Linked DNA regions of Homo sapiens. The protein of the gene in region 2 purifies or fractionates together with the protein of the main gene of each other region. This does not show direct contact. Each region holds a gene or a part of one and is shown on either strand. Other genes may lie near its edges. The genes, in order: TAMM41, SLC19A3, ABCB1, CMTM4, ATP11C, GOLGA5 and SCAMP2.

Region 1 (3,500 bases), on a different chromosome or scaffold from region 2:
GTAGATATATAGGAGTAGAACTGCTGGGTCATATGGTAGCTATGTTTAACATTTGGAGGAACTGCCAGGCTTTTTTCCAAAGCAGCTGTACCACTTTACAATCTAATCAGCAATGTATGAGGGTCCCAATTTCTCCACATTCTCAACACTTGTTCTTGCCTTTCTTTTTTATCACAGCCATTGTAGCAGGTATAGAATGGCGTCTCTGTGATTTGTATTGATGTTTCCATTTCCCTAATACCTATGATGTTTAACAACTTTTCATGTGCTTACTGGCCATTTGAATACCTTTTCTGAAGAAATGGCTATTCAAATCCTTCTCTTGTTTTTAAACTGGATTGTCTTTTCATTGTTTTGTTGTTGTTGTTGTTTTTTTTTTTTTTTTTTTGAGACAGAGTCCTGCTCTGTTGCCCAGGCTGGAGTGCAGTGGCATGATCTTGGCTCACTGCAACCTCCGCCTCCTGGGGTCAAGCTATTCTCCTGCCTCAGCTTCCCAAGTAACTGGGATTACAGGTGCACACCACCACGTCCAACTAATTTTTTGTATTTTCAGTAGAGACAGGGTTTCACCATGTTGGCCAGACTGGTCTTGAACCCCTGACCTCAAGTGATCCACCAGCCTTGGCCTCCCAAAGTGTTGGGATTACAGGCGTGAGCCACTGCGCCCGGCCTTTCCATTGTGTTTTAAAAATTCTTTATATATTCTGGATACTAGTCCCTTATCAGATGCATGATTTGTAAACATTTTCTTCCATTTTGTTAGCTGCCTTTTTACTTTTTTTTTTTTTTTTTTTAGACAGAGTCTCACTCTGTCACCCAGGCTAGAGTGCAGTGGCATGATCTCAGCTCACTGCAACCTCTGCTTCCTGGGTTCAAGCTGTTCTCCTGCCTCAGCCTCCCTAGTAGCTGGGACTACAGGTCAGGTGTGTACCACCATGCCCGGCTTTTTTTTTTTTTTTGAGACAGAGTCTTACTCGGTCGCCAGGCTGGAGTGCAGTGGCATGATCTCGGCTCACTGCAACCTCCGAATCCTGGGGTCAAGCTAGTCTCCTGCCTCAGCTTCCCAAGTAACTGGGATTACAGGTGCACACCACCACATCCAACTAATTTTTTGTATTTTCAATAGAGACAGGGTTTCACCATGTTGGCCAGACTGGTCTGGAACCCCTGACCTCAAGTGATCTACCAGCCTTGGCCTCCCAAAGTGTTGGGATTACAGGCGTGAGCCACTGCGCCCGGCCTATCCATTGTATTTTAAAAATTCTTTATATATTCTGGATACTAGTCCCTTATCAGATGCATGATTTGTAAATATTTTTTTTTTAGACAGAGTCTCACTCTGTCACCCAGGCTAGAGTGCAGTGGCATGATCTCAGCTCACTGCAACCTCTGCTTCCTGGGTTCAAGCTATTCTCCTGCCTCAGCCTCCCTAGTAGCTGGGACTACAGGTGTGTGCCACCATGCCTGGCTAATTTTTTTTTTTTTTTTTTTTTTGTGACAAAGTCTCGCTCTGTTGTCAGGCTGGAGTGCAGTGGCACCATCTCAGCTCACTGCAACCTTCGCCCGCCCGGCTAATTTCTGTATTTTTAGTAGAGATGGGGTTTCATCATGTTGGCCAGGTTGGTCTCGAACTCCTGACCTTGAGTGATCCATCCGCCTCCACCTCCCAAAGTGCTGGGATTACAGGCGTAAGCCACCATGCCTGGCCTTCCTTTTGTATACATTAGAAAATACAAAAGTAGGAAGTAATAGGGAGGACTCAGGTTCACTATATTGGTTCAGGAAGGAAGCAGTATAATCCACTCATCAAATATTTACTGAGCACCTAGTACATGTCACATACTATTGGAAGCATCCAAACAGAAGGAGCAAAACAAGACAACAATTCCTTCCCTCCACATCCTCAGTGGTGGAACAAAGACCAAAGATCAGCCAGCCAACCAACAATAAGATACAGTGTAGCCGACTGTGGAAAGTGCTATGGGGAAAACACAAACAGGGAAAGACATAGGGAGTGGTGGAGTTGCAGTAGCAGTCAGGGAAGGCCTCCATGATAAGCCAGAACTGAGGCCCACTGGGGTGGGTGTGGGGAGGGGAGGTGTGACCCAGTGGGTCCTGGGGAAGGAGTGACCTAAGTGTGAACCAGGAGTGACGCCCACCACCAAAGACCTTTCATAGAACAGTGAAGTGTTAAGAGCAAGCATTCCAGGAAGAAGACTGCCTGGGTTCAAATGCTAGCTCGGCATTTACAAGCTATGTGACCCAGGGCAAGCCACTTAACTTATCTGGGCATCAGTATCCTCAAATGAAAAAGGGGAGCAATAACTAGTTTGTACATTTCAGGGACTGAATGAATGTTACAATACCTGACACACAGTACTAGTCTAAAAAGTTTGGGTATTGTTCATGCTTTCTATCCCTTCAGGAGTGCTGCGTTCTCAGAAATTAGCAAATGACTACTGAGTAACCTGAGTTCCGGCTGAGGCACAGAGAAGCAGGCTTCCAAAGTCCTGAGGCAGTCAGCTCCCATATGCTGATACAACCACACTGCTTGTAAGGTTTCAGATGGCTTCATCACCACAGAATAAATCTTACTAGCTTCCACTCCAGAGAAAACGTTTCTTTACTGGCTTCTACCAGAATCCAGAATCCACACTTTAGAGAGCTGGCACTGAATGCTAATTTTTTTCCCCAAGAATCACTCAACTGGCAACTTCCTCACTGCTTCGTCTTATTCCTAGAAGTAGCTGAGGCTGTGTTCAGACAATCTGGCAATTAAAGAAACCCATTCTCTCTCTCATAGGAGAGTGCCCGAAAGTGTTTTTCATTCCATGAGGACCTTAACCGGCCAGATGAAATGGGGCTGTCATGTTTCAATCCATCTGATCTAAGTACTCAGCTAATTTTTTTTTTTTTTAATTTAAGAAACAGGGTCTGGCTCTGTTGCCCAGGCTGGAGTGCAGTGGTGTGATCATAGTTCACTGCAGCCTGGAAGTTGGGATTACAGGTGTGAGCCACAGCACCCTGCAAATTTTGACAGGCATTGTTTGTCAATATGTAACAAGTTTTATAATTTTTATAGCTGACAACATAATTCCACTTTGGAGAACACATCCAAGGAAGTCAGTGCCTCCTTTGCCCCTTTCCCAACGAAAGTAATCTGTACAAAGTGATTCACAGCAGTGTTGCTAATAAAACAGTGAGAAATGGAGCTAATATAAGTGTCCATCAATCACTGGATGATTGAGCAAATAACAGTTTCTCAACCTGAGGAAAACCCATCTGACCAACAATAATACATAAAAATAATAATAACAGCAATCATTTTCTGAACACTGACTATTAATGAGATAAGATGCTGGAGGCAGCCAGGCGCAGTGGCCCACACCTATAATCCCAGCACTCGGGGAGGCCGAGGCGGGAGGATCGTTTGAGCTCAGGAATTCGAGACCAGCAGAAGCACACAGCGAGCCCCTGTCGCTACACAAACGAAATTAGCC
Region 2 (3,500 bases):
TTCAATTTGAATGGCTTTTATCCAAAAAACAAGCAATAAATGCTGATGAGAATGTGCAACCTCTGCCTCCCAGGTTCAAGGGATTCTCCTGCCTCAGCCTCCCCAGTAGCAGGGATTACAGGTTCTCACCACCATGCCCAGCTAATTTTTGTATTTTTAGTAGATACGGGGTTTAATCATATTGGCCAGGCTGGTCTCGAACTCCTGACCTCAGGTGATCCACCTGCTTTGGCCTCCCAAAGTGCTGGGATTACAGGCGGGAGCCACTGTGCCCAGCCGTGAATATTTTTTTTTAATGCAAAGAAATGATATAATCCTACTTTAACAAAATCTTCACATTTAAAAAAAAGCAACCTAAGATACATGATTCTGATTAAATTAAGACATTTCCATGAAGAAAATAAACATACCAACTAATTGTTTTTTCCTTTGATGATTTTTTCCCAGAGTGCTCATATTTCTGTGTTGTAAATTGTTTATAAAACATTCTTCACAAATTGAAAGCAAAACTTGATGAAGCTTTTGTCTCCACTTCTTTCATGCAATTTGAAATTCAAATGTTTCTCATTTTTTTTGGTTAATAGCAAAGCATATTTTCTGTAGTCAGCTTTAGCTGTACTTTTATATGAAACCGAATGGTTTTTTAATCATTTTCTTAAAGAGATCTCTGAGAAAAAAGTAGAAGCAAAAATGACGGGAAATTCTAAATCCCAGAAATTATTTTTAGAAAATGACTGAAAACTAGATCTGGCGTGGTGGCTCACACCTGTAATCCTACCACTTTGGGAAGCTGAGGCCAGAGGATTACTTGAGCCCAGGAGTTTGAGACCAGCCTGGGGAACACAGTGACACTCTGTCTCTACAAAAATGAAAATTAAAAATTTAGCCAGGCATGGTGGTGTGCACCAGTAGTTTCAGCTACTCAGGAGGCTGAGGTGGGAGGACTGCTTGAGCCCAGGAGATCAAGATTGTGGTGTGCTATGATTGCACCACTGCACTCCTGCCTGGGTGAGACCCTGTCTCAAAAAGAACAAAAGAAAAGAAAAACTGCTTGGTTCCATACACGACTGCAGCTAAAGGTTTCTTGTTATCTTTGCATCTACTTTTTTTAGTATCCAACTTTTTAATAACTTTCCTGAGAATCTTTTGTGTCATAAAAGTATGTGCTTAGAATTTCTCAAGCAAACAAATGAAAGTAGGAATGAAATCTAAACCTAACCATTTGAAAGCAGATCACATCACACTTTATGTAGAAAGTTGCTGGAAATAAACAAATCAAATCCTGACAATGATGCCAGATGTAGTGGCTCACACCTGTAATTCCAGCACTTTGGGAAGCCAGGGCAGGTGGATCGCTTGAGCCCAGGAGTTTGGGACCAGCCTGAGCAACATGGTGAAACCCCATCTCTACAAAATACGAAAAATTAGCTAGGCATGGTGGCACATGCTTGTCATCCCAGCTACTCAGGAGGTTGAGGTTGGGGACTCACCTGAGCCTGGGAAGTCAAGGCTGCATTGAGTCCTGATCGTGATCGCACCACTGCTCTCCAGCCTGGGCAAGAGAGCCAGGCCATCTCTCAAACAAAATAAAACAAAAAGAAAAACCTGACAATGTATCACTGCTTTTGGTCTATAAACCTACAGAGTTTTTTCCCTTGATGACTTAAGGTATATTGTAGCAATATTCAGAGAGCAAATAGTTAAATGAAAAGTTGGCTTAGTTGTGTCTAATTTAATATAAAGCAGTCAACATTTAATATTGCAATTGACTAAAATCCTTCTGAAGTTCTTAGAGAAAGTTTAGAAAGACAGAAGAGAGAGGAATACAGTTCAGTTTTAGGAGTGGTTGGTAAAACTTACACTGCTATGGTTATAAGAAGCATATAGCTGGACTTGAATATCAAATAGCCAGCATAGCACGCCCAGATATTGGCTGTGTAATGCATGAGAAATAAAGAACCGGCATTGACAACTGAGAAGACCACCAGAGCCAGCTCTCCCAGAAGGTCCCAGTTGACTTTCACATAACCCACTGCAAAGGCAGCCACAGCCCCTGAAAAAAAACATTGAAGGCAATCAAACATAATGACTTTGCATGCAGGAAAATATCAACACCCTCTCTTAAAAACCCAGGTCTCGGGTAATTCTGAAAGATAAATATATTGCTTTCACAAAATTGTGTGATCGACCTGAATGTGGATCTATCCTTTTCTCAAGCGTGTCTTCTTTTGGCTTTTCTTTTCACTTGCTATTCTTTCGGTCACTTAGTCACCATACTTTTAATTAGCATCAACTACACGCCAGACACTGTATTCTGCAGAGGGGCCAGAAAGGTTCCTAACCACAGCAGTGTAAGGAGAAATGATACATTAACCTAGTCACTCAGTACAACATGCAGGGATGGAAAAGGATGAAATAAATTCTCTGGGAATACACTGGCCTCTCTATTTGCCTTTCTTTTCTCAGTTTTTGCTGTAAGTCTTTTTCAGTGATGAGTATCAGATGTGTTACATTGAAAGTTTTAGTCTTTTTTCTTGCCCTACCCAGTTTTAGTCTTTATTATGAACCTTTAGTAATCTTAGTCTTATTTCCAATCTCCACTCTAAAGTCTTCAACATCTGACATAATTTACTTGAGAAGCTTTGGGTGAAAATATCTATATAGACTTACAGAGTTCAAGAAATTGAAATAATTGACAGTAATTAGGGTTAGCACTTTTGTGTGGTTCTCTTTAACAAAGGTAAAAGGTATTTAGGGCTGGGGACAGTGGCGCACTCCTGTAATCCCAGCACTTTGGGAGGCTGAAGGGGGTGGATCACTTGAGGTCAGGAGTTAGAGACCAGCCTGGCCAACATGGTGAAACTCCAGCTCTACTAAAAATACAAAAATTAGCCAGCATGGTGGCGGGCACCTGCAATCCCAGCTACTCAGGAGGCTGAGGCAGGAGAATCACTTGAACCCTGGAGGCAGAGTTTGCAATGAGCTGAAATCATGCCACTGCAATCCAGCCTGGGTGACAGAGTAAGACTCTGTCTAAAATAAATAAATAAACAAAAGGTATTTAGATTTCAAATTACTACATTGACATATGACTAACTTTCCCACATGTGATCATGACCACAGAGGAAAAAAAAAATAACTATTTTTCCCCCCATGGATTTGGAATGTAGGAGCAATAATTTCAGTGAAGCAATTCTGGCACAGTCCTGGTTTCCAGGAGTTAAACTGAAGCTTCCCAAAAGGGAGATAATAATAAAATAGAGGTCACACGGGTTTTCTAAAACTTTTTGTAAATGAGGGTGGGGCGAATTCTCACTTCCTAAAAAATATCTTCAAAGTCTCATTTGACATTTAAGCTTCCAGTTACTAGGAAATAAACATTTATTGTAGATTAAACTTCAAAGACAGATTTCCCTCTGATATTAAAATCCTGACTTTCACATCTCTTCCAGCCCTCATTTAAATACCATGAGAAAGCTGCTTTTGAAAGTTGTTGGTGT
Region 3 (3,500 bases), on a different chromosome or scaffold from region 2:
AAGGAGGGATACTAGGAGATGAAAGAGCAGTTGAGAGAGTAAAGTCTTGACCAGGTGTGGTAGACAGAATAATTCTCCCCCCACAGCCTGTCCAAATCCTAATCCCAGGAACCTGTGAATATATTTCTTTACATGATAAAAGGGACTTTGCAGATTTAAAAGATCTCCAGATAGGGGATTACCCTGGATTATCTAGGAGAGCAAATGTAATTACAAGGGTGCTTATAAGAGGGAGGAGGGGGCCTGGAGTCAGTAGGAGATGTGATGATTGAAGTAAGAGGTTGGAGTGATGCAAGGAAGGGCCTGTGAGTCTAGAAATGCAAGTGTCCTCTAGAAGCTGAAAAAGGGAAGGAAACAGAGCCTCCAGAAGAAATGCAATCCTGCTGATACCTTGACTTTAGCCCAGTAAAACTTCGATTCCAGAACAGTAAGGTAATAAACTTGTGTTGTTTTAAGCCACTAAGTGAGTGCTATTTTCCTACAGCAGCAATAGGAAATGAATACACAATGTCAAAAGAGGGATGATAAAGAGGCAGGGCAGAGCTGGAAGGAATCACAGGTTGTGGTCAAAGACTGATACACGTGTGTGTGTGTTTATACCTTCATAGAGGAAAGCTCACCCAGACAATAAGCCCAAGATCCTGTCCACACGTGCAATTTACTAAGGTACTCATGTAATTTATGGAGCGTCGTTGTTGGAACTGAAGCAGTCAGAGAATGTTGAGACTTATTTGTAAGGTCACCAAAATACTCAGAAGAATAACAGGAACATAAGGTGAATGAAGTAGAAGCAATCAAATGCCAAAGTCCTCAAGGAATGGGGGTGGGGGTATACTTCGAGGATACCACCGAAAATAGATAGAAGATAGTATAATTATGCAGAATGAAACTCAAATGACAAAGGAGTTTGCATGAGAATAAAAAAAATTTGAAAATGGCTTTGTGGAACTATAGGAATGTCCACATCATCTCTGACTCCTGTGATAAGGGGTTGAGGAACTTAACTTTACAGGCGAGGGCAGCACAAGAAAAAGCCAAAGAGCTGGAGGAAAATCAGCAAACCGTGACATAACAGAAGCAAATACAAAAAATATAGGAGAAAGTCTAAGTGCTGCTGAGAGATCAAGATAGAATTTTAAAATGTCCACTGAATGTAGAGAGAGACAGGAACAGGAGCCAAACTTCAATAGGTTGAGAACTAAGTCAATGGCGAAATCAAGACAGAACGCAAAGGCCACTTTTGTGTGTGAAGGGAGCTGGCAGGGGTGGCTCCATGAAGGGCATCAGTGCCTTGATGTGTCAATGCCAATGGGACAGATCCAGTTGAGAGGGAAAGATGGAAGATACAGAAGAGAATGAGTGGTAATAATGATGTAAGGTCCCTGAGAAGGCAGAGGAGATAGGAGCCAAAGTATGAATGATTAGTCTTAAGACTAAAACTCTGTCATAACTGGAAAGAAGGAGGAGGAAACAGATTCAGACACAGGTAGGTTTTTATGATTATTGCAGCTGTGAAGCTCAAGGAGTGATTATCCATATAACCATAAAAGTCACCCAAGTTGGTTGGAGCACCAAAGTGGAAAGGGAGGATACTGAGCCAGGTGGCGTAGTCTTTGATGATGAGATGGTCATAAGATCAAAAGATAGCAGCAATAAAGAACTCTTCAATTCCAGAGAGATAACAGTTTAACCAGTCATAAATGATTACAGTTGTTAAAAGCAACTGGGCATATCTGAGTCTACCCTGCTTAGTAGCTATGTGACCCTGTGATTTTGAATGCATTACTTAACTTCTCTAAGTCAAGTTCTTCATCTGGAACACAAGAATAACACAAGTTCCTAAATTGCAGGTACTTATGTCCCTATATGAAGATTATGTCACACAATAAACATAGGGTATTTAACAAATGCCTGGTACAAGGGAAACACTTAACATTGTTAGGTATTATCTATTTAGAAAAAAATTAATGTTTCCCTAAGACACACATAATAGAAAGCTCAGAGTTCAATCTACAGTGCACAATTCTTGCAAGAATATATAATCTTTTTTTTTTTTTTTTTGAGACAGTGTCTCACTCTGTCACCCAGGCTAGAGTGCAGTAGCACAATCTTGGCTCACTGCATCTCCACCTCCTGGGTTCAAGTGATCCTCCCACCTCAGCCTCCCGAGTAGCTGAGACTACAGGCATGTGCCACCATGCCCAGCTAATTTTTGTACTTTTCACATAGACAGGGTTTTGTCATGTTGCCCAGGCTGGTCTTGAACTTCAGGGCTCTAGTGATCTGCCCACCTTAGCCTTCCAAAGTTCTGGGATTACAGGCGTGAGCCACAGCACCTGACCAAGAGTGTATAATCTCTAAGAAGTTCATTTTGTGTAGAAATTACAGCCCAGCTCTATGTGTCACATTTCCTCACTTGCTTTAGATTTTATTCTACTTTTGTGTTTCTGTAAATGTTGAAACAAGGTCTGATATAAATTTAAAAGGCTAGTATAGAATTTTGAATCTATTCCTTACTTCTTTCATCACTTTTTTAAGATTGCTAAAAAATCTCATAGTGGAAATAAATTAACAGACATTGTGTGCAGACAAGAGCTAACACAGCAGCTCTGAGGCTGCCATGTTTAGAAAGGCCTGTATACAAAGGTTGGCCCTTGGCTGGAACTTGGATTTGGGGAGGATTACCACCATTCTAACTGATAAGTATGGCCAAACTATCTGTACAAACAATATGATTCTTCATTCTGCAGTTCTGCCTTCCTTCTATGAGTCTGAAATTTTGGTGCATGCTGGGTAGGTGCCTACATGATCAGTTCCTAATAAAATCCTTGGGCACTGAGTCTCTAATGAGCTTCTCTGATAAACAGCATTCTACAAGTGCTGTCTTAACTCATTGCTTGGGGAAATTCAGTGTGCCCTGTGACTCCATTAGGAGAGAACTCTAGGAGCTTGCACCTGGTTTCTTCTGGACTTCTCCCCACTCGCCTTTTGCCATGGCTGATTTTGCCTTGTATCCTTTTGTTGTAATAAACATTAGCCATAAATCCTCTGGGTCCTCCTAGTCTGAATCACTGAAGCTGGGCTTCTTGGAAACCCTGAACACACAATGTTTTTTGTCTTCACTGAAAACTATTATTAATAAGCAATGCCAGTGACATCACCAATATATTGTTAAACTTTTATTATGTTCTTGTGTTTATAAGTTTTATATTGAAGTTACATTCAATGTTTTCTATGTTGACTTTTCAGGAAAAAGATGTGAGGAAAATCTATCTAAGTAGTAGAGTACTTCATCAAGAGACTTAGAATATATTCTCTCTATCCTGGCCCCATTGTACATCCTCAGACAAGTGAACATGTCTGGCTCCAGTTTCTTCATGTGTAAAACTGGAATAATAATAGTATCTTTCTCAAAAGGAGTTGTAAGGATTAAATGAGATTAAATATGAAATACTTAGGACAATGCTTGGCACACAGTGCTTTATGTGTGCTATTACTAC
Region 4 (3,500 bases), on a different chromosome or scaffold from region 2:
TCTGCCCGGCCGCCCATCGTCTGGGATGTGAGGAGCCCCTCTGCCTGGCTGCCCAGTCTGGAAAGTGAGGAGCATCTCTGCCCGGCCGCCATCCCATCTAGGAAGTGAGGAGCGTCTCTGCCCGGCCGCCCATCGTCTGAGATGTGGGGAGCGCCTCTGCCCCGCCGCCCCGTCTGGGATGTGAGGAGCGCCTCTGCCTGGCCGCGACCCCATCTGGGAGGTGAGGAGCGTCTCTGCCCAGCTGCCCCGTCTGAGAAGTGAGGAGACCCTCCGCCCGGCGGCCGCCCCATCTGAGAAGTGAGGAGCCCCTCCGCCCGGCGGCCACCCCATCTGAGAAGTGAGGAGCCCCTCCACCCAGCAGCCACCCCATCTGGGAAGTGAGGAGCGTCTCTGCCCGGCAGCCACCCCGTCCGGGAGGGAGGTGGGGGTCAGCCCCCGCCCGGCCAGCCGCCCTGTCCGGGAGGGAGGTGGGGGGTCAGCCCCCCGCCCGGCCAGCCGCCCCGTCCAGGAGGGAGGTGGGGGGTCAGCCCCCCGCCCGGCCAGCCGCCCGGTCCGGGAGGGAGGTGGGGGGTCAGCCCCCGCCCGGCCAGCCGCCCCGTCCGGGAGGTGAGGGGCGCCTCTGCCCGGCCGCCCCTACTGGGAAGTGAGGAGCCCCTCTGCCCGGCCACCACCCCGTCAGGGAGGTGTACCCAACAGCTCATTGAGAACGGGCCATGATGACAATGGCAGTGTTGTGGAATAGAAAAGGGGGAAAGGTGGGGAAAAGACTGAGAAATCGGATGGTTGCTGTGTCTGTGTAGAAAGAAGTAGACTTGGGAGACTTTTCATTTTGTTCTGTACTAAGAAAAATTCTTCTGCCTTGGGATCCTGTTGATCTATGACCTTACCCCCAACCCTGTGCTCTCTGAAACATGTGCTGTGTCCACTCAGGGTTAAATGGATTAAGGGCGGTGCAAGATGTGCTTTGTTAAACAGATGCTTGAAGGCAACATGCTCCTTAAGAGTCATCACCACTCCCTAATCTCAAGTACCCAGGGACACAAACACTGCGGAAGGCCACAGGGTCCTCTGCGTAGGAAAACCAGAGACCTTTGTTCACTTGTGTATCTGCTGACCTTCCCTCCACTATTGTCCTATGACCCTGCCAAATCCCCCTCTGCGAGAAACACCCAAGAATGATCAATAAAAAAATAAAATAAAATAAAATAAAATAAAAAAACACAAGACGAGTCACGCCCTAGGGCTCAGGGCTCAGCCAGTGGCCCCTGTGGGTAACTGCCAACTGTTCTCAACCCACCACAGCACCCAGCCTGGGTTCTGAGATAGAGGCCTAAGAGGCCTCCAGGGCCACAGAGCCCACTAAGAAAGGGTGACCAAAGCGGAAGAAGAAAAACAGGACAGTGTGGGGGCCCAGGATGCAAGGTGAGAGAGTATGGCAGGAAGGACAGAGTGCCCCATAGCAGACACCACCAGGATGTTGAGTGGGGTGAGAACCCAAGAGCAACCAGAGGATCTAGGAACACGGAGGCCCCGTCCCAGGCTCCTGACCAGGGGACTTTCAATGCTGCCAGACTGGAGTGGGCTGAAGATGAATTGCGGAAGACCACCACATAGTCAGGATGGTGGACTGGGGGAAGGGGCAGGGGGTGTGTTTAGCTGGAAAATACACATGGGAAGCTTTTGGGGTGTTGACAATCTCCTATTTATTGACCCAGGTGGTGGCTGTATATTAAACTCCATATTTACTTTCATAATTTTTTCAGAATTTGACAATAAGAGATTAGAAAAGTGAGATTAGGAGAGGGGGAAGTAGAGAAGGCAAGTGCAGACCTCCTCTTCTGGGAAGTGGGGCTGAGCTGGCCCTGGGCTCTGGGGCCAGTTGAGTGGGAGCCACTGGCAGGCTTTTGGGATGGGGGAGGATCAGACACGCCTTTTAGATAGCGCCACATCCCAGAAGGGAAGGGGAGGAAAGGAGGAGCCCCGTGGCACTAATCAAAGTAAACAGGGGTGGAACATGTGAGTGTATGAGCTCCTAGGACACAGAGAAAAACAAATATCGCCAGGCACGGTGGGTCACGCCTGTAATCCCAGCACTTTGGGAGGCTGAGGCGGGCAGGTCACCTGAGGTTGGGAGTCCAAGACCAGTCTGACCAACATGGAGAAACCCCCTCTCTACTAAAAATACAAAAAAATTAGCCGGGTGTGGTGGCACATGCCTGTAATCCCAGCTACTCGGGAGGCTGAGGCAGGAGAATCGTTTGAACCTGGGAGGTGGAGGTTGCGTTGAGCCAAGATTGTGCCACTGCATTCCAGCCTGGGCAACAAGAGCGAAACTCCGTTTCAAAATATATATATATAAATATATATATATATAAATATATATATATAAATATATATATATATCAAAGTCCCACAATCCATCCAAAAATAAACCCAAACCAAAAACTTGACATTAACAGAATCATTCAAATTCCATCAAATTATGCTTGTAGAAAATTATGCACTGTCCTCCTTATTTATCATTTCTCATCCATATTTATGTCAACCTGGGCTCCTGGAATGACCTGTGTTTTTAAATCTATACCAATCACACCCTATTTTAACCATCAGGCTGGCTCTGCTGGAGACAAAAATACTCCCAATACTCCCACCACCTTGTTACAGAAACACAACACAGCCAAGGCCAACCCTTCTGTAGCGAGTTGATGAGCTGAGATCGGCCGTGAGGAGCTCACTTTTTCACCCCTCTCAGAGAACACTGGACATGAGCTGCCTTTAATAGATACCATCTTGGCAGGGTGCAGTGGCTCACGCCTGTAACCTCAGCACTTTGGGAGGCTGAGGTGGGCAGATCACCTAAGATCAGGAGTTGGAGAACAGTCTGGCCAACGTGGCGAAACCTCGTCTCTATTAAAAATACAAAAATTAGCTGGGCACGGTGGCACATGCCTGTAATCCCAGCTACTCAGGAGGCTGAGACAGGAAAATCACTTGAACCCGGGAGGCAAAGGTTGCAGTGAGCCGAGATCGCACCACTGCACTCCAGCCTGGGCGACAGAGCAAGACCCCATCTCAAAAAAAAAAAAAAAAGGTACCATCTCCTCAAGTTCATGTAAGGTATATGCCCTTTTGTTGGGCAAACACACAGCCTTTATCTGCTCCAAAAGAGTGGAAAGTCTAGAACGGATCCCAAAGAACAGGATCGTGTTCTCAAGTGACCACATCACCAACACCCAACCACAGGCCCAGGCCACCACCACCCAGAGGAAAAGAACGAGTATCAACTTCCCTGGGGAGAGATGCACCTCAACATGACCGGTGACATGGTAGTGTGGTAGTCAACAAGTGGAAAATCTTTCATGATTAAAATAGAAAAAGCAGAATTCCAGAAAGCTCACTAAATAGGTATTTCTGGGCTGGGTGTGGTGGCTCACACCTGTAATCCCAGCACTTTGGGAGGCTGAGGTGGGTGGATCACCTGAGGTCAGGTGTTTGAAACC
Region 5 (3,500 bases), on a different chromosome or scaffold from region 2:
TTTCTTTCTGGCTGGAAGGAATTTTACATGCAACCAGTTATTTTTCTACTAGATTATTCTGTTAACTCTCCAATGGTACTGCATTAAACAAGCCTCTCTACTGTGGCTCTCTTGTCTGTATTCACAGTTCCCATAGATTTTATGTAAAACAGCAATCATAATACAGCAACAACAACCATAAGAACAAGAAAACAAACACAAAATATCAAAAGCTTTCCTGGGTTAGACTTTTTTAGCTCTTTGGAATAGGCAAAGAATATAGAGACTTTTGTTTTCAGCAGCTTACCTCAAATACGGGCTACCAGAACACAGCACACTTAGGTAAGTTGTGAATGACATGTAACAAAATGCTCAAAAATAATACTGATATATGAGAGCAAATGAAATAATGAAAAAGGGTCTATAATGATGGAATGGCTTCTGATAACTGAAATTATGTTCTTTTCTAGAATTTAGAAAAAAATCATACCTAAACATTAACACAAAATATATGTGGAAGAATCAAATGTGCCATATGGACTATATAAATATAATACAGATTAACTCCAATACTTTTCCAAATCAAGGTACAATATAAACATTAATAATAGTACAGGCATGCCAGAAAGACAAAAAAAAAACAAAAAAACTAGCAGTCAAATAAATATGGTCATTTATATCCAAAAAAGTATGTGTTTAACATTGAATGAAGACATTTCACATTTATGTTTCAAGTGAACTAATTAGAAGGCTAAACCTTCCTTCTAGTTCAGTTAGTCAAGGACTTTACTAAGGTCAGTTACATGGTTTAGAGTTAGACCATTTCCCTGTCCAAGTTAAGAGACAACATTCATCTTCACAGAGTCATGGCTCTACAAGCTGAACCACCGTTTTGGGGTGGCTCCTTCCCCCTTTCCAAATTGGCCAAGTTTAAGAAAAAGCACTGCATATATGCATAAATGCAATCTCTTTCAAATAAAAACCGTCAAAAGTTTAAAATAAGCTATATTTCTTCCTCTTCACATAAAATTATAAAAGGCTGATATTCAGAATGACCTTTATTTTTATATAACTATGGTTTAAACCACCTTACTGCAGATCCCAGTAAAATCAACACTGGAAAAATCTGTTTATTTTCTAACTACTTTGAGGGGCTACTAAGTGATTGGAAATGTTTTATACTTTATTTTCAAGTCTAGTAGGCTTACACCCATAAGTGGGGTTTAATTCAGAAGAATAAAAAATAAACAATTTTTTTCTATTCCCACAAAAATACCCGTAAGTTAACACTTTCCACATAAGCGTTCAAGGTATTTTTTTGGCAAGAATATTCTACCAAGACATTAGTAGCACATGGGTAAACAGAAGGGATTAACTATTCTGTCTGATGCATTGATACTATTTAGTTATTCTGTATTTTCAAGTATTCCTTATGTACTTGGGAAAAAAAATTAAGATGATCATTTAGGAGGAATGAGAAATGTGATCCAAATAGTCTATTTCTTCTGCCAGGCAAAAAAAGTAGTATTAGCAAAATCTATTCATTCTCATTGCATAACTTCTACTTCATACTATTGTATTTAAATCCATTCACAAAGTTCATGGGTTAAAAGAGCACCCATTTGAGTTATATTACTCTAACTAAAGCCAGAATTCTAAGTATTCTTGCTTTCAACTTTCATATAATTCTTAACTTACAGCTTTGGCCATAAAGGCTACTTACAATAATGGTAAATGCTTAAGAGAATCATTTGGTATTTTAATGAACATTTATTGTGAACTCTAGACATGAGAGTGGTTTAGTGTGTTGCGTATCAAGTATCCTGAGATGATAACTTTTTGTAGTTGTTTCTTCATGCTTTCTTTTTTAGCTGTAACCACTGTCAGTATGCTTGTAGGACAATAACATAGGCAGTTCAAGATTCGGATTCTGAAAAATGTAAAATATACAGATTTAAAAGGCTTATTTTAATAATGTGAAACCATCTGTTAAGCATTTTCAGAAATAAGTAGTAAATTTTGTTATGAGAGTAAAGCAACTGTCTTAACAAAGTGCCAAGTTTTATTCACATGCAGGGGAAAAAAAGAGTGACACTATAACCAGATTTTAATCCTTTCTTCATTTGTCAGCTGAATAGATTCAGGCTTGCTTTTTGCTTTTGGATTGTTCCAGGGTTCTCCTAATACTTTCTACCTCTGGGATTATTTACCATAGCAGAGGTTTAGCTTGCTGTGATCCCTTCTCCTCTAGGCTGGGAGGTCCTTGAAAACAGGAACATTTTATTTACCTTCTATCTCCAGCAGCTAGTAATAGTGTCTGGCACACAGCAGATACTCAGGAAATGTTTGATGAATGATTAGATTGCTGTTTTTCTTGATGTGTTAATTTTGACAGAGGAAGTCTGAAGATATATTCAGCTTTGGAAGATTATTGTGAAAATATTCTTCCTTTTTACTGAAAGAAGCATATTTCCCCCCTACAATATGGAAGTTAATTTTCCTTTTGGTAGATCATGTATCTATGAGTCGATTGATTCTTCTGTTTTTTCTTATGCTTCATCTTTTTGGAAGAGAAACCACGGATATTTCCCTATCAAATCTGTAGATTCTTCTCTGTCCTCTAAACATCATCAAATGCTATGATCAGGATGGTGCATGACAGACAAACTGATCATTAAGTGTAAGTCAAGTATGTTAAGAAATGGAAGTCATATGTCAAAACAGGGAGCCTGATTCTCCACTCTAAAACTCAATCTTTTTGAACCTGAGTAGTGGAAGGTCTTAAGTAGTATGCTATTTTCTTCCCATTCTGGGACACCTCCTTTGCCATGGCTGGACTAGAAGCTCATTAGAATACCTTCCATTTCTATTTATGTTCCACATTCTCCAGAACCACTAGTAGGTTTTCAGGTAGCTCTGCAGGGTCATGGTGACTCTAACCAAAATAAGGTTGCCATTCATACTGAGAATGTAACTCACATTGAGGAGTTAGGTAGTTTCCTTACCAACCAAGGAACAAACTAGATGCCTAAACTAGCTGCTAATTATTGTCTTTGGAGGAGAAATAATGCCACATGAAAATCTATTCCTGGAAGAAATAACTACATTAAAAATAAGACAATTGTTTTTAAAAAATACTTCCTCAGTTCTATGTTAGACATTGTAGGAGATAAGGCCCTGGAGAGGCCAAAAGCAACAGCAGTGTCTTCTATCCAGCCCAGTCCCCCAAACCACAGACCAAGCTAAAGAGAGCAATCCAGGGGGATACAAAATTAGCCAGAAACAATATAGCTAAAATGCATCACACAGCTTAGAACGAGGCAATCTGGGACAAAGGGGTCAAAGACCTTGAAGGTTACTTGTGAAGCAGATTCATTACTAAGGGAAAACATACTCAGGTAAGTTGTTCAAAAATGGGTAAAAAGATGCTAACTGTGGCAAAATGAGTCTGCTTCTAAAATAACAGTGCAGATGTAGACTGCGATGAACTCCAGGAAGACAGAAGAACCAATGGAGTCAAT
Region 6 (3,974 bases), on a different chromosome or scaffold from region 2:
AGGAACAACAATACCACCTACCAGAGAATAATAGTACCTTCCTTATGCATGTGAGATTAAAATGAAGTGAGGCACATGCAATGCTTAACACAGTATTCTACACTTAATAAAAGGTTTGATAAATGTTAGATGCCATTATTATGATTACCACCTCCTGGTGCTGCTGAAAATTTTTCTCTTCACCGTACTGGGCTAAACCTCACCTGAGAGCAATAAAAGCAGGAGCTGTAATTACTTCCAATATTTAATTTGGAGACAATAAAGCTTTGAGTCTACGAGGAATAGGCTTTGGAGTAATGTGGACTCCTTATTAGGACAGATGATCTTAGACAAGTTATTTAAACTGTTTGAACCTTACTTTCCTCAATTCAAAGATTTGAGACTTGGAACTGTGTTGTAGGCTTGTCATTAGGGCCAAGTTAGCCCAATCCTGTACACATAGTGGGTGCTGAGTATTTGAATTAGTGAATGTGGATTTTAGACTTATTTCAGATAGTCAATGAACTGTATGCATAACATAACCACAATACTGCCTTTTCCATCCTTTGGGTCTCAGCTCAAATATCATCTTCTCAGAGAGACCTTCCCTGACCACCTGATTTAAAGTACCTCCCGTGCCTCCAGTCACTTTTCCCCGTTTTCTTGTCGTTACAACTCTGGTAACGCCCTGAAATTGTCTTGTCCATTCACTGTTACGTAATATCTGTCTCTGCCACTAGAAAGTAAGCGCCATGCAATCCGGATCATGTTTTCTTATTTCCACCTTCTGCCGTGGACCTCTGGCATTCTCGTCTGTAAAACTTAGGGGAGATGGTGAGGAAAGGGAGAAACACGAGGTCTAGCCGGTCCACCCGGGTCTCAAGCCCCGCCCAACTCAGGCCTCGCGTTCCTTCCAGGCTGGGCACCGCCTTTGGTCACCCACGTGGCCCGCAGTAAGGCCCCGCCCTTTGTGGGTGTGGCCTTTCACGGCGTGCGGGCCGTCCACCGGCGGCGAGCCACGTCACACGCACGCAGGCCATGCGCCGCGCCTGTTCTCGCCGCGGGCGGAAAAGGGGCGTGGCCATGCGCGAGGACCCCGTAGCCGCCAGCGCCACCGCCTGAGTCGCCTGCAGGTGGCTGTTCGCGTCTCCCTGCCGTGCAGGCAGCTCGAAAGCCACTCTGTTGTGGGGTCCTCGCTTCCCTTCCACGTCTCCCGGAAGCGGTAGCAGGGCCCCGGCGGGTCGGGGAGGAGGTTTACTCAGCTTGGGCCCCCTCCGGGCCAGCCGCCGAGGGGGCGCGGCCCAGGACGGCGGCTAGGCCGTAGTGCAGCCTCTCCGGAGTCCTCAGGTGAGGCGGAGGCGAGGGCCCACTGGACGAGACGGGGGTGTTAACGGTCCTAGGAGCGGGGGCGCAGTCCCTTCAGTGGAGACCCTGGTCTCTCCGTTTTCTTTCGGGTCGCGCTCATCTTCGCCCTGTTAGGGGCTGAGGAGGGTAACTGGAGAGACTCCTTGGGCTTCAGCCGACGTCGTTTACTGCCCTCCTCTGTCTTCCTTTCTCCTGACCCCTGCCTGGCCTGGCCGTTCTTCCCGCACGGAACGAGATGGGTGGGGAGCAGAGTGGGGGTCTCTGCTCGCTTACCTGAGATTCCCCAAACTGACAGACCCCAGGGCTCTACGGACTGGGCCTGACCGACTGACCTCCAGCCTCCCTCCCTCTGTGCTGACGCCTGGCCTTCGAAGCAGGCCCTGCCGCAGCCCTTTGCAGACCCATCCCCATCCCACGCACTCTCTGCCCCTGGGCAGTGTCTGGGGAATTGACGGGTGCCTCTGAAGTCCTTCGTGTCTTTGAGATGTTTGCCCAGGGCCCATCTAAGTATTTAATTAGGTAATCGACATTAATTGCAACATTAGTAGCAGTTGCATGGTATGTTTTAAAGCCCAATTAATTTTGAAATGGGAGGCAAGATATAAAGAATTAATGAGCGTGTTTTGATTTTTTATTACTTTTTTTGTAGAGACAGGGTCTTGCCATGTTGCCCAGGCTGGTCTCAAACTCCTGGCCTCAAGTGGTCCTCCCCGCTCGGCCTCCCAGTGTGTTGGGATTACAGGCGTGAGCCACAGTGCCTGGCCTGTATGGTGTTCTGTATGTTACAGAGCATTTCATCTCCATTTTCATTTGATTTTTTATAAACTCCGAAATACATAGGCATTTAATAGTCACATGTGTAAAGAACAGATTTAAAGGATGAGTTTCTTCTTGAGGTTTTTTAGATTTTGAGCTGTATGGTATAGGGAGGCAAGGGTTAAAAGTAGGTTTGGCACTAGGGTAACTTAGACTTGAGTATCTGAGCTGCTGTCTAAACTCTGGGATCTTTCTAAACCCTTTCCACATTTGCTTTAAAAAAAGGATATTGCTGTTTACCACATAACGTGGCTGTGAAAATTACATGTGATAAAAGATACATGTGTACCTGTGTACAGCATCAGTCATATAAAAATTCCACTCAGCAGTATTTGTGAGTGCCTACTGTGTGCTAGACTCTGGGAATTCATTGGTGAGCAAAACAGACATAATCTTTATCCAGCCACTGCCCCACTTTCCCCAAGAACAAGAAGCATGTTAAAAAAATACGTAATTATAAAACATGAAGGACTGTGAAGCAAAAGAATAGGGTATGTACAGATAATGATTGACCTAACTTAGCTGGAAAGGAGAACTCTGAAGCAAATGACATTTGAGTGAAGACCAAGAACAAGAAAGTTAACCATGAAAGAGTTCTTGGCAAAAGGAACAACGTGCACATTCTAGAAATGGTTGTGGACTTTATTATAGAGCCCTTCTGTATCTATATCTTCATCATTACTTTGATGTATTGTGGCACACAATAAGTACTCAAATATATGTATGGAATGAGTGGTTATGCAATTTTGGTTTTTATTCTGGACTTAGCTTAATGTGCACATGGTAGGTATTGAGTATGTGAATTATTGAACATGTACTTTAGATAAATTATGTGCACACCTAAATTATATGTAATAGTGCTGCAGTTTAACATTAAGATAGCTTTTGTATTTAACGGAAACGTTTTTTCAAGTTTTAGCACTTTAAAACAAACTTCAGTGAATTTTATTTTTATTTGGTTGTACTGGAGTTTTGCCATATTGGTTATTTGCTGTTTGGATGTTGTTTTAATTTGCTGCTGTAGCAAAGTACCACAGATTGATTGGCTGGGCCAACAGAAATTTATTTTCTCTCAGTTCTGAAGACTTGAAGTCCAAGATCAAGGTATTGGCAGAGTTGGTTTCTTCTGAGGCGTACTTCTTTTGCTTGCAGATGTCTGCCTTCTCCCTCTGTCCTTTCTGTATGCCTGTTTGTGTTGAAATTTCCTCCTCTTAGAAGGACATGCCAATTATATTTGATTAGGGGCCACCCTGACGACTCATTTTAATTATCCTTTTAGAGATCCTATCTCCAAAAACAGTCACATTCTGAGGTCTGGGGGTTAGGACTTAAATAAAGGAATTTGGAGGGATGCAGTTCAGCCCATAACAGATGCTTTTGCTACATTAAGATTTGCCCGGCCGGGCGCGGTGGCTCACGCCTGTAATCCCCGCACTTTGGGAGGCCGAGGCGGGTGGATCATGAGGTCAGGAGATCGAGACCATCCCGGCTAACAAGGTGAAACCCCGTCTCTACTAGAAATACAAAAAATTAGCCGGGCGCGGTGGCGGGTGCCTGTAGTCCCAGCTACTCGGGAGGCTGAGGCAGGAGAGTGGCGTGAACCCGGGAAGCGGAGCTTGCAGTGAGCCGAGATTGCGCCACTGCAGTCCGCAGTCCGGCCTGGGCGACAGAGCGAGACTCCGTCTCAAAAAAAAAAAAAAAAAAAAAAGATTTGCCCTTCTTTGAAATAGTAATAATAAAAACAGTAATTTATTATTACTTTGAAATAGTAATAATAAATAATAAAAATAGAAATAATAATAAAAACAGTAGTG
Region 7 (3,500 bases), on a different chromosome or scaffold from region 2:
AACAGTAAGGGACTGACTGTATGTGAGGCTGAACAGACCTGGCCCCGGGGCCCTGCACCTGCTGGCAGCTGCTGCCATTTGGGCCAGGTTCCTCCTGAAGGATGAGACTACAGTCCTTTTTAGGGAGAGATCTCAAACTGGTCATTTCACAGGATGACAAACCAGGCACATGTGTACACACACACATGTATACACACACCAACCTCTCCAAAAGCTCTTCAAAGACCTAAGGCTGACGTGGAGAGCCAAGTTTCAGGCACTGGGGGCGGAAGCAGGAGCAGAACTGACCCCGCTGTGCCACGCTGGGGGTCTTGACCTCCTCCAAGTCTGTGACGCCAGCTGAGAAGGACCCAGCTCCCTACAGCCCACCACCCAGCTGCACAGAAAGGCAACTCCGCATGTAAGGCCTGCCTCACCTCCACAGGGCTCTGGGGCCTGGGAGGGGTGTGGGGCAGGCTCCGGGTGCCCTGCCCTTCCTCCTGCTCATCTACATTAGGCCTACCTTCGGAAGCTTTCGCATGTAGCTGTCTCTGAGAATACTTTCTCCTCCTAGGAGCATCTGCCTCTCTGAGAGCTCGCTCACTGCCAGGAATTGGGCAGGCGGGAACTTGCTGGCCTGTCTAAGCAGGAGCTGCAACACACAACTCCACCATGGGTCACGCTCATAGGGGCAGCGAGGGGTGCAGCGGGAGGGCAGTGAGGCGGCGCAGTGGAGCACCAGGCACAAAGCAGGCAAGATTCACAGTATTTGGTGAAGGGACAAAGGAAGACAGGAAGGAAGGTGAGAATTAATGAAGTTAAAAAAAAGAGAGAGATTCTGGGCCCCAAGGAAGAGAGAACAAGCCAAAGGCCCGAGGAGGACCTGGAGGGGTACAACAGGGACAAATGCCCTCTCTGGAGGCACCGAGGAGCCCGGCCTGGTGAGTAGAGCTTATTTCTCAGTGGTGGTGGTGGGTGGGATGGAGGGAGTAAGGATATTAATTGGCAGAGCAGCCCCTCTACTTGTAGGTGACCAGCTCCGAACAAATTAGCAAGAGGGCCCTTAGGGGGCCAAGGCTGAAAGCTCTCTGCTTGCCCCCAGCCTCAGGGCTCAGCTACTGGTCTGGATGATTCCCTCACTGGAGAGAAAAGGCCAGAGTTCTTTGTCAGCACTACCTGGGGGGTCGGCTGGGTTGGTTCCACTGATGGCTGGAGAACCGCTGGCTGTGAGGACCCAGGGAGTTGGGTGACAGGAACTGTTGTCGCTGCATTTGTCTACATGGAACAAATCAAAAGACAGAATTGAGTGGGACTCCATTAGCTGGTGACGAGGGGGCAAACCCACAGCAGGATGAGTGATGTGCCCCTGCCTGTGAGGGGACTCCCTCGGGGCCTGCACTGGGCCTTCCCCTGTGGCTTCCCAGCCAACAAGCCTCAGGTTCAGGCCATCTGATCCCTAACCCGGCACCCCTGGGCTCGCTGGGTCCAGCACACTTGGGCACTGCCCTGACCTCCTTGGGGAGGGGCCCCGGTCACAGATCCCAAGGGGAGAATTTTACAGAGCGTTTGGTGGCTTTGCCATCCTTACCCTGCCTCCCGGGTTCATGTTAGGACTGTCCCTTTGAGGACTGCCGCTTCTCAGAGCTGCTTCTGTCCTTGCCAAGGATCCCTGCCCCGGACACCCCAGCACCACCCTAGAGGGCCATGGGACTTGGAAAGAGGGCCTGCTCACCAACCTCTGAGAAGGGGTTGAATTCCGCCAGGCCGCCCTGCGGGGCGTTGGTCAGCTGGGTCACAGAGGGATCCTGAGAAGGTGAAAAAAAGCCCTTAGACACAGTGGAGAAAATCCGGGCCAGGGGCCGGCAGGCGAGCCGGTGACGCCTGACTGAAGCAGGGCAGCTGATCACCCTCCCGGGACCCTGAGAAGCCTCTCTGGAAGGGTCCTGTGCCTGCCTCTGCCACACCACAGCTGCGGTCCCTTCTCCCTTCCCCCTTCCTGGAAAAGGTTCAGCCCAGAAGAGACCCAGAGCAAGCTTTACCCAGAAGCTTGAGAGTACACACCACACAGGCTCCTGTTGGTGCCCTATACAGATTCAAAATGGTTCATAGTATTTACCTCTAGGGAGTGGGTTTTTTTTTTTTTTTGAGGGGTGGGGTGCTGAGGGGCAAGTGAATGGGGTGGTGAGGGTAGAGACTTACTATTGACTTTATAACCTTTCTGTACTGTTTTACTTATTATTCATTTATTCCTCTTTTTTTATATTTTTTTATTTTTTCGAGACAGAGTCTTGCTCTGTCACCCAGGCTGGAGTGCAGTGGCGCAATCTTGGCTCACTGCAACCTTCGCCTCCTGGGTTGAAGCGATTCTCCTGCCTCAGCCTCCTGAGTAGCTGGGACTACAGGCGGCCGCCACCATACCCGGCTAATTTTTGTATTTTTAGTAGAGACAGGGTTTCACCATGTTGGCCAGGATGGTCTCAATCTCTTGACCTCGTGATCTGCCTGTCTCGGCCTCCCGAAGTGCTGGGATTACAGGCGTGAGCCACCATGCCTGGCCATTCCTCTTATTTTGTAAAAGACAGTCTAAGGTAGCCGGGTGCAGTAGCTCATGCCTGTAATCCCAGCACTTTGGGAGGCTGAGGCGGGTGGATCACCTGAGGTCGGGAGCTCAAGACCAGCCTGACCAACATGGAGAAACCCCGTCTCTACTAAAAATATAAAATTAGCCAGGTGTGGTGGCGCATGCCTGTAATCCCAGCTACTCCGGAGACTGAGGCAGGAGAATCACTTGAACCCGGGAGGCAGAGGTTGCAGTGAGCCCAGATTGTGCCATTGCTCTCCAGCCTGGGCAACAAGAGCAAAACTCCATCTCAAAAAAAAAAAAAAAAAAAAAAGTAGTCTAAGTTTCTAGAACAAAAACATGCTGCTGGCTGCCAGTACTGATTTTATTAAATCGGGCACACTTGCTAAGAGCAGAGATATGATGAGCTGAGGTGAAAATTCAAGAAAATGTTTCTGGGTTTCGGGGGTTTTTTAAAGTCTTTTCATAAAATCCAAGAATGTCCTCAGAACACAACCTTGTCTCCCTTTCCCATCTGATCTCTGCATGGGGCTCTGCCATCCTCTTTACTGTGCCCCTGCTGGCCTGGAACAGTTGTCTTCACCCTGCCCTGCCCCAAGAAGAGCTCCTCCACACCCTCCCCTTCCTAGTAACAGATGCAGGGCTCAGGTCCAGCTTCACAGCCATGCCTGGGCTCCATGAGGAACAGCCCTGAGGGTGGCCAAATTCAGGGCTGTTCCTGCCTGTGGAGACACCGCTTGGGTTCCACACCTCACCCCACACCCCTAATTATTAAACCAGATGCTCCCAAACTTCAGGCCCAGCCTCACCTCCACTGGAAGCCTCTGCAGAGCCAGTTCTTTTTTTTTTTTTTTTTTTTTTTTTTTTAAGACAGAGTCACGCTCTGTCACCCAGGCTGAAGTGCAGTGGCATGATCTCCACTCACTGCAGCCTCCGCCTT

What was found.
Region 1: the proteins of SLC19A3 (region 2) and TAMM41 purify together in Homo sapiens (affinity purification with mass spectrometry; one large-scale study listed by BioGRID and IntAct). This does not show direct contact.
Region 3: the proteins of SLC19A3 (region 2) and ABCB1 purify together in Homo sapiens (affinity purification with mass spectrometry; one large-scale study listed by BioGRID and IntAct). This does not show direct contact.
Region 4: the proteins of SLC19A3 (region 2) and CMTM4 purify together in Homo sapiens (affinity purification with mass spectrometry; one large-scale study listed by BioGRID and IntAct). This does not show direct contact.
Region 5: the proteins of SLC19A3 (region 2) and ATP11C purify together in Homo sapiens (affinity purification with mass spectrometry; one large-scale study listed by BioGRID and IntAct). This does not show direct contact.
Region 6: the proteins of SLC19A3 (region 2) and GOLGA5 purify together in Homo sapiens (affinity purification with mass spectrometry; one large-scale study listed by BioGRID and IntAct). This does not show direct contact.
Region 7: the proteins of SLC19A3 (region 2) and SCAMP2 purify together in Homo sapiens (affinity purification with mass spectrometry; one large-scale study listed by BioGRID and IntAct). This does not show direct contact.

Annotation. Positions count from the first base shown.
Region 1 is NC_000003.12:11,822,886-11,826,385, forward strand, and holds part of TAMM41 (phosphatidate cytidylyltransferase, mitochondrial isoform a precursor), read right to left. Parts: intron 1-3,500. UniProt on the Homo sapiens protein: Catalyzes the conversion of phosphatidic acid (PA) to CDP-diacylglycerol (CDP-DAG), an essential intermediate in the synthesis of phosphatidylglycerol, cardiolipin and phosphatidylinositol.
Region 2 is NC_000002.12:227,694,029-227,697,528, forward strand, and holds part of SLC19A3 (thiamine transporter 2), read right to left. Parts: intron 2,054-3,500; coding exon 1,861-2,053; intron 1-1,860. UniProt on the Homo sapiens protein: Mediates high affinity thiamine uptake, probably via a proton anti-port mechanism. Has no folate transport activity. Mediates H(+)-dependent pyridoxine transport.
Region 3 is NC_000007.14:87,590,885-87,594,384, forward strand, and holds part of ABCB1 (ATP-dependent translocase ABCB1), read right to left. Parts: intron 1-3,500. UniProt on the Homo sapiens protein: Translocates drugs and phospholipids across the membrane. Catalyzes the flop of phospholipids from the cytoplasmic to the exoplasmic leaflet of the apical membrane.
Region 4 is NC_000016.10:66,630,744-66,634,243, forward strand, and holds part of CMTM4 (CKLF-like MARVEL transmembrane domain-containing protein 4), read right to left. Parts: intron 1-3,500. UniProt on the Homo sapiens protein: Acts as a backup for CMTM6 to regulate plasma membrane expression of PD-L1/CD274, an immune inhibitory ligand critical for immune tolerance to self and antitumor immunity. May protect PD-L1/CD274 from being polyubiquitinated and targeted for degradation.
Region 5 is NC_000023.11:139,727,054-139,730,553, forward strand, and holds part of ATP11C (phospholipid-transporting ATPase IG), read right to left. Parts: intron 1,910-3,500; coding exon of another isoform or gene 1,847-1,909; 3' UTR 1-1,846. UniProt on the Homo sapiens protein: Catalytic component of a P4-ATPase flippase complex which catalyzes the hydrolysis of ATP coupled to the transport of aminophospholipids, phosphatidylserines (PS) and phosphatidylethanolamines (PE), from the outer to the inner leaflet of the plasma membrane.
Region 6 is NC_000014.9:92,793,131-92,797,104, forward strand, and holds the start of GOLGA5 (golgin subfamily A member 5), read left to right. Parts: upstream 1-1,174; 5' UTR 1,175-1,326; exon of another isoform or gene 1,327-1,863; intron 1,864-3,974. UniProt on the Homo sapiens protein: Involved in maintaining Golgi structure. Stimulates the formation of Golgi stacks and ribbons. Involved in intra-Golgi retrograde transport.
Region 7 is NC_000015.10:74,852,866-74,856,365, forward strand, and holds part of SCAMP2 (secretory carrier-associated membrane protein 2), read right to left. Parts: intron 1,785-3,500; coding exon 1,716-1,784; intron 1,255-1,715; coding exon 1,156-1,254; intron 632-1,155; coding exon of another isoform or gene 503-631; intron 1-502. UniProt on the Homo sapiens protein: Functions in post-Golgi recycling pathways. Acts as a recycling carrier to the cell surface.